Regions from separate parts of the Homo sapiens genome. Here region 1 is linked to region 2. Evidence: fine-mapped expression QTL. Tissue or cell type: whole blood. Region 2 holds a variant in brackets; the other region holds the start of a gene. All regions are shown on one strand. Distances are from middle to middle.

Region 1 (6,610 bases), 52 kb before region 2:
TTGTGAGCAAGTCTGTTCCTTAAGCCCAAACGATGTCACCGGCAGGGGTGAAGGGCAGGCATGAGAGGGCTGGAAGAAGCACGTGATCTCGCCTGTAAGTGCAGGGAAGGTCACAAGGCTGGACGCCAATGTGCCCGGCCTACAGGAGAGCCAGGCCGCCCTGACTGCCAAGCGAATGGAACTGCACTCGCCCAGCGCTCTGAGTGGAATGCGCGGTCTGCAATCTGAGAATACTCCCCAGAAAAACGGATCCCTACCGCCTCGTGCCTTCCTGAAAGGAAACAGAGACTGCTACCCCCTCACTTACAGAAGGTCTCCTGGCCCACGCGCACTTTAATCATGATCCACTCCATCGTTCCTCCCAGGACAAAAAAGAAGGGCAGGAACCGGTAGATGCCAAATCGCTGCTTCCCGGGCACCCGCTGCAGAATCCGTCTCACCTGGGCCCTGGTGAACATGCTCGACCGAGGTCGTGGAGAGGGATATGACGGAACTAAGCACTGGATCGCCCGGACGCAGCCGAGACCGCCCCGCCCGTTCTCGCCGTGTACCGCGACCTGGGAGACTAGCGAGCGCCGTCCTCCGCCACTGTCTGGTAGGCGCACGAGTGCCGGAACTGGGCGCCGACCTTCTAAAGCGAGGCGGATCCGCCAATCAGACTGCAGCGGGGGCGTGCAGCTCCGCCAATCAGAGCACGGCAGGGCGCGCGTGCTCCCTGAAGCCGAGCAGGGCCTCGAAGGAGCTGGCGCAGGCGCCTCAGCTCTGGAGGTGGGACGGCCCAAAAGGGAAGGACAGCCCACGTGGCGCCGGCCCGGCCCCGCCCCCTGCCTCCCCAGTGCAGGTCTGAGCTCGCAGTTGGCAGCCGCGCCCCCTACTCTGCCACCGCCATTTTTATTCCTAATACCCAGATAGAAGTGATGACCCTCTCTGATGGACTATGTACAGCACCACATTCCAAAATGCAATTATGCAATGCCTTGCGTTTATTTCGGAGACGTGATTGGTGCCTAGACTTCTAAAGTAACAGAATTTGATATGGAGTGTTGAAAGCTGAACTTTATCAATTATCACAGCAAAAATCTAAGTAAGCGCCCCGTGAGAACCCTAAAATTAATAAAAGCTATCTTGTATGGGGCACTTACAGTTCCACAGGCACTTGTAGGCGCTTTATTCACAATAATCGCAGAAGAGCAGTATAAAGAGCATGCACTCTGTTACCAAACCACATCCCTGCTCTACAGGTGCTCCCTTAGCCCATCTGTGCCTCAATTCCCTAAGCCGTAAAACGGAGGCCTTGTTCTGACGCTGTGATAATTTAGTGCGGTAATAGGAATGATGCACTGAACACAACCCTGGAGCATAGTAACTGATTAATATTAGTTAGAATATTCATTATGATGATAATGATTGGCAGAGCCCTCGCTCTTCACATGTATTCCCAAACATGGTTTTTGTTTGTTTCTTGAGACAGGACCTCGCTCTGTCATCCAGGCTGAAGTGCAGTGGCGCAATCTCGGCTCACTGCAACCCCCTCCTCCCCGGCTCAAGCCATCCTCCCACCACTACAGGCGTGCACCACCACGCCCGGCTAATTTTTTAATTTTTTGTAGAGATGGGGGTCCCACTATATTGGCCAGGCTAGTCTCAAACTCCTGGGCTCAAGAGATCCTCCTGCCTTGGCCTCCCAAAGTGCTGTGATTACAGGCGTGAGCCACCGCGCCGAGTCTGAACGTGTATTGTTTATATGTAGTCTCTTAACTGACAGTTTAAGAGACTATGCCAGGTAGAAGCAGGGCTCTGACTTAAGAGACTTCACTTGTAATTGCGTCTTCTCATGCTGCTGTGCTTGCTGAAGATAACTGAAAGGGGCTGTCACCCCATTACCTAGGACTAAAGTAAAAACTGCAGGAACAGCTTTGAGAAAGGAGACAACTATTAGACAATCTAAGGAAGGTAAATGAAAGCTTAGAACCAATGAGACGATTTGGTGATATGGACACAAAATATACAAAAGCAGACTGGAGAGAGCAAGCAGGGCCCCAGAAAGGGTCATAGGGCCCGCAGTGAGCAGCCTGAGCTGCCGCCTGTACAACCGGCTTTGGAGGGCCAGCCCGGAAGCCTCTTTCTCCTCCGGGTAGACTCCGCCCAAGCATGCACACACACAGGCTTGATGCTCGCTCCCGTTTCTACAGGAGGTTTTGACGGCTGGATGCTGCAGGGCATCCCCTCGCCTGGAGGAGGTTCACTTGTGGCCAGGTTCCCAGCACACCCACTTGCTCACTGGGGCCCTGGGGACACCGCCACACTCGAGCCCATCCTACGGCCTCAATCCTTACCAGTCCCCAGGCCATGGACTGCCACACTGTAGGTCTTCAATCAAGGTTCAGTGGAGTTTCGAATGTACACACACCCTGAAAGACAGCGCGGCCACCTCAGAAAACAACGCGCGCCCAGCTGGCTCCCCTCCGACAGGGCCCACGGCTACTGGGTCGGCCTCCTCCGGACCCTGAGCACAGCCTGGTATGCGTGCGGGCTCGGAATACGGATCTGAGCAGAAGAAATGCGAGTGGAGAGCGGTTCTGCGCAGGAAAGAGGAATTTTGTTGGAAAGCCTGTCGACGTTGCTAGAAAAGACCACAGCATCTCACGAGGGGCGTGCGCCGGGAAACCGGGAGTTGACGGGTCAGTGCGGCCAGTTGCCGAGGTCCGAACCAAGCGGGCGCAGTGACCGTGGCCCACAACCCTGCAGCGCACGGCCCAGTCACCTGGTTAGCGGACGTCGGCTGCCCTGCAGGCCCCTCGGCCTCCCCCAGCGTGGGCCTGGCACCGGGAAGCGCGGGAAGGGCTCTTTATTTGTTAGACCAGTGAGTGGACTGGCCCGGGCTCTGGTCAGTGGGCAGTCAGTCCGAGCCCAGAGACCGGGGACCAGGACCCCGGGAAAGGAGAGCACCAGGACTAGGGGGAGGAGCGGAGGATCTGGGGTCAGAAGCATCCAGAGGCGCAGGGTAGGGCGGGCGGACCCGGGAGCGGAGAGGGCGGCAGAGGACCCGGGGGCCCGGGGGGTACCCGTCGCGCTCCGGCTGTCTCCTCTCGGCGCCTCGGCCGTCCGGAGCCTCTCAGGGACGGCCGCTCTTAGGCCCGCTGACTTCCAGGGCTGGGGCCAGGGAAAGGCGCCGCCATCGCCGGCGTGACGGCCGAAGGGGGGCGCAGAGTCCTCCCGGACCGCGCCGGAGACTGGCTGGGGGAGGGGGCTGGGGAGCCCTCCCCGCCCCGCCCCGCCCCGCCGGGTCCGGGGCCTCCCGCCCCCCGGGCCGAGGGGCGCGCCCATTGGCAGGCCGGGCTCCGCGCGCCGCACCCATTGGCCGGCCGCCGTGAGGAGCACGAGGCCACCGTGGCGGGCGCGCAGTCGGAGGGCGGCGGGCGGCGGGCGGCGGGCTGGCCGAGGGCAGCGCGGGCGGCGGGCGGCGCGCGGTGGGCATGGCGGGTGCGGGGCTGCGGGCGGCCGCTCGGCGCTGGCTGCTGTGCGGAGGCCACGGCGGGCCGCGAGCCGCCTCGTCCTCGCCCTCCTGCCCTGGGTGCGGCCCCCCGGGTCCCGGCGCCCACTGCCCCGGCGTCCCGCGCTCCGCGCCCGCCCAGGCACCCACCAGCGGCGCCGACCTCAGCGCGCACCTATGGGCTCGCTACCAGGACATGCGGAGACTGGTGCACGGTGGGTGAGCCGGGGCGGGACGTGCGCCGGGGTGTCTTCCGCGTGGACTGATGGACGGACCGAGCCCCAGGGTGCCGCTCCTCCGGGGAAACACCCAGTGGGGCTCGCCAGGGCCCCGGAGCGCAAGGGCCGGGCGGCTTTTCGCGAGAAGCTCCGGCCGTTCATCCCGGGGGCCTCTGGGGCGCCCCGACGCCCGGGGGCGGGCGGGAGGTTTGTTCCCCGGCTCGGTCTGCAGGAGCTCGGGGCTCCTCGAGCGGCTGCCGGAGTGCTGGGCCCCCGCCGACTTCCTTCGGGGTCCCGCCTGCCGTGAAGCCGCGGTGGAAACGCCCCCAACCCCTTGTTCTCGGCCAACCCTTAGTTGGGGCGGGAGAGTGCTGTGGACAAAGCCAGCGAGCGGCGCCGGGCGGAACGGGCTCCTAGGGACGGCCGGACCAAAGGGGACACCGGTTGGACTTCCCAGACACACCTCGATGTCGCCCTGGAGGTCCGGCCCCCTCTCAGCCCGGGCAGCGAAGGCTGGGAGAAGCCAAGTCACCCCCGCCCCCTGGAGCCCAGACTAGGGCTGCAAAGGGCACTTAACCTCCCTGTCCCTGCTCTCTCCCTCTGAGAAATGGCGTGAGGAGGCTGAGGCCCCTTCTTGGAGGGGGCCGGCTGGGGCGCACTAGTGAGGCCCCAGAGCTGAGAGTGCTGGACATCTGCCTGCTTGTCTCCGTGGGTCTAGTGGGGCCCTGCTTCTGCAGCAGACAGATATGGTTTGGGTCGTGACCCTATCACTGACCAGTTGGGTGGTCCCCCAGCAAGTCTCACCCTCTCTCAAGCATGAAACGCAGTCCTGGGGCCTCTCTGTCCCAGGGTTGGGTGATGACTGGAACCAGGCCAAGCAGGGCAGGAGAGCTTCCGGAGGAACCCCCAGGGGTGACGTGGCTTTTGTTGTCTGATAAAACAAAGTAGCCCTGTCTGGAAGATTCTAACTGGCTAGACAGGGGTTTTCACTCCGGCTTTGTGGGGTGGCGGAGAATCACTTCTTGACCAGTAAAGGCAGGATGGTAAAGGCCCCTGAGGAATGGTCATTTTGAAGCCTTGGGCATCTGTCCACCCTCGAGGTCCCAGGTTGAGTTTGTGTCTGTGGAGGGGCGGCCCAGCGTTATTTAAGAAGTCTTTGCTCTGGGCCCGGAGAAGACCCTCAGAGTATCCTGAGAAGCCTGCCTTGGAGGTTTCAGGGAGGACTACGGGGATCTACTGGACATTGTCCTCCTGGGCCTGCCTGCATCTTTGGAGCCTCACAGCCCTCTAAGCTCCTCTTGTCATACAAGGAGCAAAGTCATTCCCACCAAGATCCCATGGTGAGCACCAGCAGGAGCCAGCTTCACACCTCTGGGCGCCGAGGTCCGCTTTGGGCTAATGCCCACGGGCTGAGAGCAGTGCAACAGGTCCCTCAGTCCCCCAGCCCCCACCCACCTGGCCTCAGTGTGGTGACATTGGGAGGCTAGGCTGAGAGGCAGAGTGATTAATGCAGGTGGGGTGACTTGAATGGTGATCTCAACCCCGGTGCCTGTTACTGGGTGGTTTGGAGCAAGTGACTTCACCTCCCTGAGCCCCAGTTTCTTCCTCCGGACGATGGGGGAATAAGTGGGACTGCCTCACAGGATGGGAGTGAGGATTGAACAAGACAAGCCTCTAAGGCATCCACAAGTGTCACGGCTGCTAGGGAGCAGTTGGCCCTGGGACCTGGCACCATGGGCAGGTGTGGGAGCTAGGGCTGAGGAGAAAGGAGGGCAATTGCTGGACATGCTGAGTGGGACACACCCTCAGCTGCCCCACCCCCACCCCCCACCCACACCACCTATGGAAGGGAACAGGCTTCTGTCGCCCCAGAGCCAAGGTTCTTCTAGTCTAGAAATCAGGCCAGGCCACCAGGCCCTGTGGCTGTTTCCACATCCTGCTTTGTTCCTGGGAGGACTGTCTGCCCCTGGGCCCCTGGGAACATCCTTAGGGGCAGAGGTGAAGGCCTGGACCTAACCAGGACTCTGTGCCAGCAAGGGGCTGCACTGCCGAGCAGACCCTCCCAGGTCTTCTGCACCAAGAGTCACAGTCACAGTTGGTATCCGGGAACTCAGGGCCATGGGAAGGGCAAGGCCCAGGGTCCTAGTGACACACCAGAACCCTGGGCCTTGAGGGGTGGCTCAGAAGCAGCTCCCTAGAGCGTTGCAGTCAACTGTCTCACTTGCATCCAAGTGAAGACTCCTGTCTACACCCACAGATCTTCGGAGCAGCCGCTCTGTGCTGGCCTGGGGAACCAGCCACACCTGATCCCCCACCCACACCCTGAACTTGGCTCCAAAGGAAAGGGGTGGGAATGGAGCCCTGTGTCCCCAGAGTGCCTCTGAGGCAAGTGCTCTGGGCACGGAGCACATCAGCGAGATGTCTGCCTCTTGAGTGCAGCAGCTGCCAGGCACACTGTGGGGCTTCCCTGGCCCTCTGGCCTGGCAGCTCCTGCTTTGTCATCGGCACTGGGGTTGTGGCTGAGACAGGGATCCCCTGGAGTCTTAGAGCTGGGGCCCCTGCAAGGCAGGGGTACTAGATGTACCCTGTACATCTAGTCCTGCCTGCTCCCTTCTCCCTGCAGCCCCTGCTTCTGGAGGGACACTGGGAAATTGGGGACAGGATGCTCATAGGCTCAGGAAACATATCACCCATTTAATCCTGCATATGTGCAGGTGCAGAGTGAGATTGCTGCACAGAGCAGCACCTTCCATATGACAGTCTTAGTAATTCTGTAGGTTGGTACAATTTTTTTTTTCTTTTTAAAAATGTTTTCACAGAGACAGGGTATCGCTATATGGCTTAGACCAGTCTTGAACTACTGGGTTTCAAGCAATCCTCTCGCCTCAGCCTCCTGAGT
Region 2 (7,824 bases):
GGAAACAGATTGAAAAGTCCATCTCATCTGTGTCTCTTTAGAGGAAGAAATAGTTCTATAGGCCTTCTGTGAACGGATTTTTAAAAAAACCTGACTGGCCACCCCTGGCCCACAGCAGTGTGTGTGCATAAGGCTGTGTGGCCAGGCCCAGGTCCCTTTCCAACCTCTTCCTTACCTTGCACCACCAACAGCTCCTGGCACGTCCCTTAAATCATCGGAAGCTGCCTGATGGAGAAAGAAACACAGTCAGTCCCCACCTACTGCAGCCAGCCCCAGCCATTTACTGGTTGCCAGACCCTGAGCTGGGCATTCTGCCCTCCATCACCGCCCTGAGGAGGCTCCCCATCCCCACGCTGTACCCTGGAGCCCACTCTGGGACCCTGGGGCCCACTCTGGGACCCAAGGGCAGAGACCCACTTGGTTATCCCACCAGCACACAGCAGGGCTGGGATTCCCACTCGCAACCTAGGGCCAGAGCCTCTCGCCACTCTCCAGGGATCCAGCATCTGACTGCTCCTTGTGCCACGCAAGGGTCCAGGTAGACAGTCTACAAATTTGGTCCGACCCTAACTGGCCAGCAGTGGACACAGCCCTGGCAAGTCCCTCCCAATGGTCTCTGTGCACTGGGGAATACCTAGGGCTTGGGAATCTCTTGCTGTGTGACCCTGGAAAGGGTGATGGCAGAATACTGTGGAGTACTGAGGACAGACAAGGACTCTGCAAACTGTCCCAGTGTCACAAGGCCATAACCTTGTGCTGCTGCAGAGATGGGGCTGGAGGGAGGCCCAGGCACCAAGCACATTTGCGAAGCACACAGCAAGCACCCTTGCTTTCCTCCTGTCTTTCCTCAGGACAAAGGAAGGGGCCCCAGAACTCTCAGTAACAACCACAGAGGAGGCGCCAGAGTGAGACTGTTTCCCAGACCACCAGGGTGACATGCGGAAAGGCGCCGAGTGGCTCCAGGGGTGCCAGGAAACAGAGAAGAAACCCAAACAAGCCCCTGCACGAGGGTCTTTTGAAATGCCTTCCCCAGGGAAGCCTGCTCACAGGGTCAAGGGCCACCCTCTCCACCTGCCCCCCTCGTGCCCTGGGCCCAGTGACAGAGAACTGCCTGTTCCCATCAACCAAGGTGGGTGGGGAAGGGAAGGAGGGAGGCTGAAAATAAACCCTTAACCACTGTGTTTGTCAGGAAGACACTCAACCAGAGACAGGTCCAAGAGAAAGACCGTGGCACAAAGCAGAGGACGCCAAACCCTGGAAGCATCTGCCTCAGCTCCAGCTAGGCCACTTCCTACTGCACACAACCCCAAGCAGAAGAGTCCACCCACAGATGTATGGTCCCCAGAAGCGGGAAGAGGGCATTACCTGTCCCGCAGGGATGGACTCCAAGGAATCAGAACATCCCTGGGCAATGGGCTGGTGCTCGGGAGTCAGACTGTCAGTGGACGAGAGGCTGCTGGCCAGGGCCTCCTCCTGAACGAACATGATTCCTGGAGAGACCAGGGCGGGTGGGCAGGCAGGCAGGGTGGGTGGGGCGGGGAGAGCGGCTGTTCAACAAGTGGGGCTGGGCCCCTCAGGCTACTGGCATGGCGGGGGTTAGCCAGATCCCAAAACCCAGCCACATGGATTATAGAAGAAAATGTTAAAACTGAAATCTCAAAATAACTCAAGAAAGAACAAATGACTGCTTATCTAATCTCAGGGCAGGGAGAAGCATTCTGAGAATAAATGCAATGGAAAAAAACTGAGATGTGACTACATAAAAATTAAACTTCCACAGACACATTTTTTAAAAACCAGGATAGATTAAAACCAGATGAAATGAGAAAAGTGTTTGCAATATTTGACAAGGATTTATATCGCTAGTCTGTAAAAAGTTCTTACAGATTACAAAAATGAGGGAAGGTTGGAAACCTCATTAACAGACTGCAAAGGACGTGAACAGACATTCCGCAGAAGAACGGCCAGCGGATAGAACATGAAAAGAATGCTCGCTCTCAGAAGTACACAAAGAAAGGCAAGCTGAAACAAGAGACAAGTGTTGCCTCTCAACTTCTGCCAAAGTCAGACTGACTGTGTGGCCTGGCCCTGACCTCGCTGGGCAGAGGCCGGCACAGGCATGCAAGCTGGCCCACCCATCCAGAGAAGAGTTTGGAGGTACATCCATCAAGAGCCTGAAATGTGTTCACTCCTGGAGCATTTTCCCAGACGGTGACTAGACATGACCCCGTCCCCTGATTTGTCATCTCTGCAGGACTCATAGATACACAGGGCACGGGACAATTCACCAGGGGGCCAGCCCTTGCAGGCCTTGGTATCCAGCAGGGCTGCTGAGTCCAGCCTGAGCCCACATCCACAGTCCCACTTACCACAGGACGTGCCCACTGACCTGCCCTGGGGCCACCTCCCACGGACAGCAGCACTCTGACCCACTGCGTCCCGTAAATGCACAGTGTTCCTAAACCCCGCTGAAGCTGTTTTATGAACGTAGCCTATCTGGACCTGTTACTCCACCTCAGATCACCTCTAGACCACTTGAAGGTAAAGCCTTTGTGAACATGTTCCTGACTGCCGCCAGCAGGGTGAACACTGGGCATCGGCCGCCAGTCTCACTGAGGCCTACAGGAGCCCTAGGCCTACCTCCACAGCCCAGCATCGCCACAGCCCAGTGAAATGACCCCGAGTCCTCTGAGCCCCACAGGTCGAGACCCCCGACCAGCTCAGCTGCTCCCCGGGACAGGACAACTCACACAGCCTGGGTCCTCTGCCCACAAGCGAGGCAGGCAGGTGGGCCCAAGCTCAAACGCCCCCACGAAGCGAAGCAGCAGGGGGTAGGCAGGCAGGAAGGATGGCAAGCACACAGCCATGCATGAAGCACCCTGATGGGCCACGCTGGGCACCTGCCCAGGCCGCTGCTCTCCTGCAATCCACCCTCTGCCTGCTAACGTTCAACTCCTATTCACCTTCGAGATTCACCTCAGACACCACCTCCACTGCAGACCTTCTCTGCTCTAGACAGTCTACAAAAGCCCCACACCATCCTACCCTGTTCTCCTCCAGCACATGGCTCATCCTCCCGCATGGCTCCAAGCTCCCCAGGGGCACAGTCTGGGTCATCTTGAACCCCCTACTAAGGATGTGGGAAAGGGCAGCCCTCATCGACCACCTCTGTGGAGCTCTGGGTAGTGCCAAGCGCCTCCCCAGCATTCGCTCATGCATGCCTCTCGTTATTTACCACATTTCATCAAATCTAAGATGCGGCAGGTGGCGCCATCTTGGTCCTAGCGGAAGGTGTCCACGGGTTTTCCACGACTCCATCTCGAATACCAGCTGGCTGACAGCGACTATGAGACGCCACTGACTGAAAGACGCACCTCAGTTTCAGAGAAGTCACAAGGTGGAAATGCGTGCCTCTTAGAATCAATGAAGTAGGGTGCGTCCACTTCACAGTTGAGAAAACAGCTTCAGAGGGGCTACAAGTTGCTTGAGGTCCCACAGCTAGGAAGCTGGCATGCGAACTCAGCTGACCGAGCCCTGGCTCCTAACCACCTCTCCACACAGCCTCCTCTCAGCCCCTGGGCCTGGCTGGACAATCAACTCTGGCGACCACCCCTATTGGTCACAATCATCCATGGCTCCGACAGCGCCTGCCACGACGGGAGGCTGGGTGTTGTCTGGACAGCGCCCCCTTCAGGCAGGCCCGAGTGCCAGTTCCTTCGCAAGCAGGCTCCCTTCTCGGGAATCAGGCTGGAAGCAACAGGCATGGGTCAGCAAAGCTGCTCCCACGCGCTAAAAAACCCTGTCCATCCAGGCAAGACCCAGGAACACGCGGCTGAAAAAACACACGGGGAGGCCTCCAAATCAGTGAGAAAAAGACCAACACCTTTTGCCACTACCTCCCACAAGCCCTGTTTGGACCAAGGAAATGTGGACAGGGACAGGGACAGTCTATCTGCTCCCGTCCTGGACCGTGGCCTGTACAAACAAGTGGTCAGAAAGGGCACTCAGCGGATAGAGCGGAGACATCAGGAGAGTCCTTAGGGGTCCGATCTTTGCTGTTTCTCACCAAAAGGAAAGAGAGGTGCACACAAAGACATCCACTGCAGTTTTATTTAAGAGGTGCAAATCTGGAGGCCATGTCCAGAAGTCCAGCGATGGCGGGGACAGACTGCAGAGTGCCCCTCTGCAGAGTGTCCCCAGGGCACAAGGGGAGTGAGGAGGGGGCTGAGCTGGTGCAGAGGCTTCTCCGACAATGTGGGGGGCTGCCTGCAGCTGCAGCCTGGGGACATGGTGCATCCCCACCCATCCAGGGCCTGCTCTTCACTGGCTCCTGCTCTACCTGCCCACTCACTCACTCACTGATCAACAGATGCTGGCAGAAATGGCTGTGTCCCTGGCCTTGAGAAGCAGATGCAGCTCCCTGTCCCCAGAGGCCTACAGTCATATGGTACCTCCACAGGCTCGCTTGGCTGCGCTACAGGAGGC[A/G]GCGTCAGGGAAGCTTTCTCACCGTGATATAACCTCCCTGGCTTTTATGTAATAAAATGCAACCAGAAATCCTTAGTCAAGAGTCTGACAGAAGCAAAATGGGCAATCATCCTGGCACCTAACCCCATCGCTCCACGCTCAGGAATTCTCTTCCACATCTCACAGGTGTGACCTCAGTGTGCTGCTCTGCGTTGGGCCTTTTGCCTTAACTTGAATGCTTCTCCCCTCTTCCTGCCCAGTCTTCCTGTCCCTGCTGGGAGGGCTGCTGAGCATTCTGCACCACAGCCGACTCTCCCTCTCATCCTCCGATGTTGCAGTTGCAGCCCGTGTTTTGGCAGTGGTGAGCATTTCACCTCCCCTTCCCGGTATCTTATCCCTCTAAGAGAAAATCCCCACCAGTGGGGTTACCAGGTCAAGGGGTGGGAATGTTTTTCTGGCTCTTAAAACATCGGGTTGAACTGTTTTCCCAAGACCTCACACCAAGTTCTGCGTCTCCAGGAGCCCGGGCAGGCGGCGTCCTTTCCTGCGTGTCCCGAGCCTCGGCTCCACTCGGGACGGCACACCCTCCCCTCTTCCGTGGGGGCCGGGCCAGCAGACACGCTCATGAGACCTGCTTCACTCACTCATCTCCGAGGATGCCTGGGTTCAGAGGTGAAAGCCCTTTGAAAACGCTAAGATAGTGGGCAGACGAATGGGCCTGGTCTTCCATGGGTCCACAGGGACAGAGATGGCCCATCTTGGCCCCACAAACATGGTGTTCTGGGGCTGGGTCACCCCACAGAGATGAGGCAGTGATAAAAGCAAGCTTTTCCCTGCACAGGGATTCGGGCTCCAGACAGTAAAGTCACAAGCCCGGCTTCCTGTAACCAGGAGCCAACCTGCTTGTGCTGCCGGTGAGGGAATGGGTCCCATGAGCCAACAGCCCCGAGCCTGTTCAGAGGGCAGCCTCAGGGCCTGTCAGACACCCTGCGGTCTCCTAGAGGAGCTGGATGTGGGCATCAGAGCAATTGGGAGTCCTCACCAAGCAAGCAACAGCTGGCATCAGGCCAGGCACCCCTGCCATGTGTCCCCCCGCGAGGACCAGCCTGCAGAAGGCACTGCCCTCCCTGTGTCTGACCCTGTTGGAAGCAGGTGCTGGCACCTCTCCCCCAACCCCAGCCCAGCCAGGGGGCCCAGGCAGGGCTGTGTGGCTCCACTAGAAGCAAGATACATACACGATTACCTTGGTTAGAGAGGATGGGCTGGGGCAGGGAGGCAGATGCGGGAGCCACAGTGGGAGGGGAGCTGCTGGGTCTGATGCAGGGGGCAGCTGAGAGCCGGGAGTCTTCACCACCCTGAGGACGAGTGCTTGAGTCAGCCCGGGAGAGAAGAGGAAGCACAGAGCTCCCCAAGGCCAGGGGTGTGAGGAGGGAGCGCAACGGTTCCCACCAACTGGGTGGTAAAGATGGTCTCATCATATCCTTAGAGCAGGAACTACCACTGTCCCCACCCCACAGAGAACAGAGAGGCCGCGACTTGCCCGAGGTCATGCAGCCAGGGAGGGGCGCAGCTGGGACTCGGCAGCCCTGAGCAGTCCCATGGCCCAAGCCCCCCAAACTGGCTCCTATCCCGGCTGGCTCTGCACCACTGCCCTCCCACCTGCCACACAAACCCACCTTCTTCTCTGGGTTGCTCAGTTTGGACTTGACCTCCTTGGCTTTCTGAATTGCTTTCAGCACTTCCACAGTGTCCAGCTCCTTCTCTGTGGTCACTGTGTCATCCAGACAGACCTAGAGCATCCAGAAAGTGGCTATCAGCATGGGGACTGGTGATGGCTATCAGCATGGGGACTGGTGATGGCTATCAGCATGGGGACTGGTGAGCATGGCAGGAGGATGGTAGGGCTCTGCTGAGGAGGAGGCGTGAGCACCTGCTGTGGGCCAGGCCACGTGAGGACACCATAGGCTGAGGGAGGCTCAGCCTGCTCAGAGGCGGCTCTTCACTACTCATGGAAGTGACCTGGGAATGCCTTGGAGGGGTCCAGGGAGGTCTCACATCTGTCTCTGGAGTCCCTCACCAAGAACAGGAGGCAGCAAGCTCTTGGGCAGCTGGGACTAGGGTAAGGGGGCAACTTGAACTAAGCCCCCAGTTAGAGGTGGGAGGCAGACTCTCAAAAGAGCGATGGGAGAGCCTCCTGGGTAGGGGAACCAGCGGCAGGAGAGGGCAGGGCCCCCGCCTGCAAATGTGGGAGGGAGTGGTGGCTGGCAGGCAGTGGGGGGTTGGGTAGGGTGGTTGAATGAGGGAAGGTCCCAAGGGCCTGGACAGGAGCTGACACTCTGTGGCCTGGGAGCTTCCCAAAGTCTGCAGCCCAGGAGGGGAGGAGATGGCATCTCATGGTCTTGTGACTGTGTGGAGGAAGGGGCACTTGCGGCCACAAAGAGGGAGGTGGGACACAAATAGACTTCCAGGTATTTTCTGACCTGGGATTTTGGGAGAACAGAAGGTCCAAGGACCAATCAGAGCATCACGGGGACTGCTCCAGGCCCAGGCGATGGGTGAACCTGGTTAAGGGTGTCTGGTCAGCATCGTGGCAGGTGCACAGACACCGCGAGGGGCAGCAGACACCAGGCTGGGCTACACTGGCAAAGGCAAACCCTTTGGGTTTACAGTCAGGCACTATGGCCACAGGTTGTCCAGGAGATATGAATATTTTAAGGATCTTATTTCTGACCCTTTCCTAGAATAAACAATGTTATCCCAGACAGTAGGGGCAGGAGATGCAAGGGAGCTTTTTCCTGGGGAGATAGTGGACTTCCCAGAACTGAAAAGCCCCTAAGGGACAGGACCTCTTTCTGAAGCAGGCAAGGGTAGAACAATGGACATATATCCCCCTACCGCCCATGCAGACTTGACTGCATCCCGAAGGTCTCCCTGGGCTCTTCTGACTGTGCTGGGGCTCACCTCTGAGGCCCTCTCTCCGAACTGAGCCAGCACCTTGGTCCGGTAGTCGGGGATGATGCTCAGAGGGTTGTTCAGCAGAGACACGTGCTCCAGACACGGGAGGCTGCCTATGCTCCGGACCTCCTCCATCTGCAAGGTATGAGTTCCATCCCCTTTGGTCCCTTCTCTTAACACTTCAGCAACACGCCAACACGTTTCATGGTCTCTTTTAAATGAAAGGAATCTTAACATTCTTCTTTAACATGATACACACCAAGGCACAGAAATCCCAAAACTGTGAGGTCCTTGGGCTCACCTGTTCGATCCTGTTGTCCCGGAGATCCAGGTTGACCAGTGAGTAGAGCTTGTGCAGGCCACTCAGACTCTCTAGGAGGTTGCCTGCCAGGTTTAAGGTCTTGA

The links. PIP is the estimated chance that this variant, and not a neighbour inherited with it, causes the effect.
Region 1: NT5DC2 starts here. The variant in region 2 is fine-mapped to the expression of NT5DC2 in whole blood (INTERVAL, PIP above 0.99).

Annotation. Positions count from the first base shown.
Region 1 is chr3:52,530,604-52,537,213 of GRCh38, reverse strand. It overlaps NT5DC2 (5'-nucleotidase domain containing 2), which reads left to right and starts at 3,357. Exons shown (of 14, transcript NM_001134231.2): 1 at 3,357-3,708. The coding sequence starts at 3,477. UQCC5 (ubiquinol-cytochrome c reductase complex assembly factor 5) reads right to left here and starts at 609. Exons shown (of 2, transcript NM_001124767.2): 1 at 308-609. The coding sequence starts at 458. RefSeq lists enhancers at 1-290, 4,118-4,247 and silencers at 624-923, 2,958-3,457, 3,518-3,867, 3,898-3,987.
Region 2 is chr3:52,478,179-52,486,002 of GRCh38, reverse strand. It overlaps NISCH (nischarin), which reads right to left. Exons shown (of 21, transcript NM_007184.4): 10 at 7,721-7,824; 11 at 7,426-7,554; 12 at 6,141-6,254; 13 at 5,708-5,819; 14 at 1,366-1,490; 15 at 176-225. Among named protein-coding and RNA genes, the nearest start is that of STAB1, 13 kb to the left of the region's middle. The variant A/G (reference allele first, on the strand shown) is at 4,486.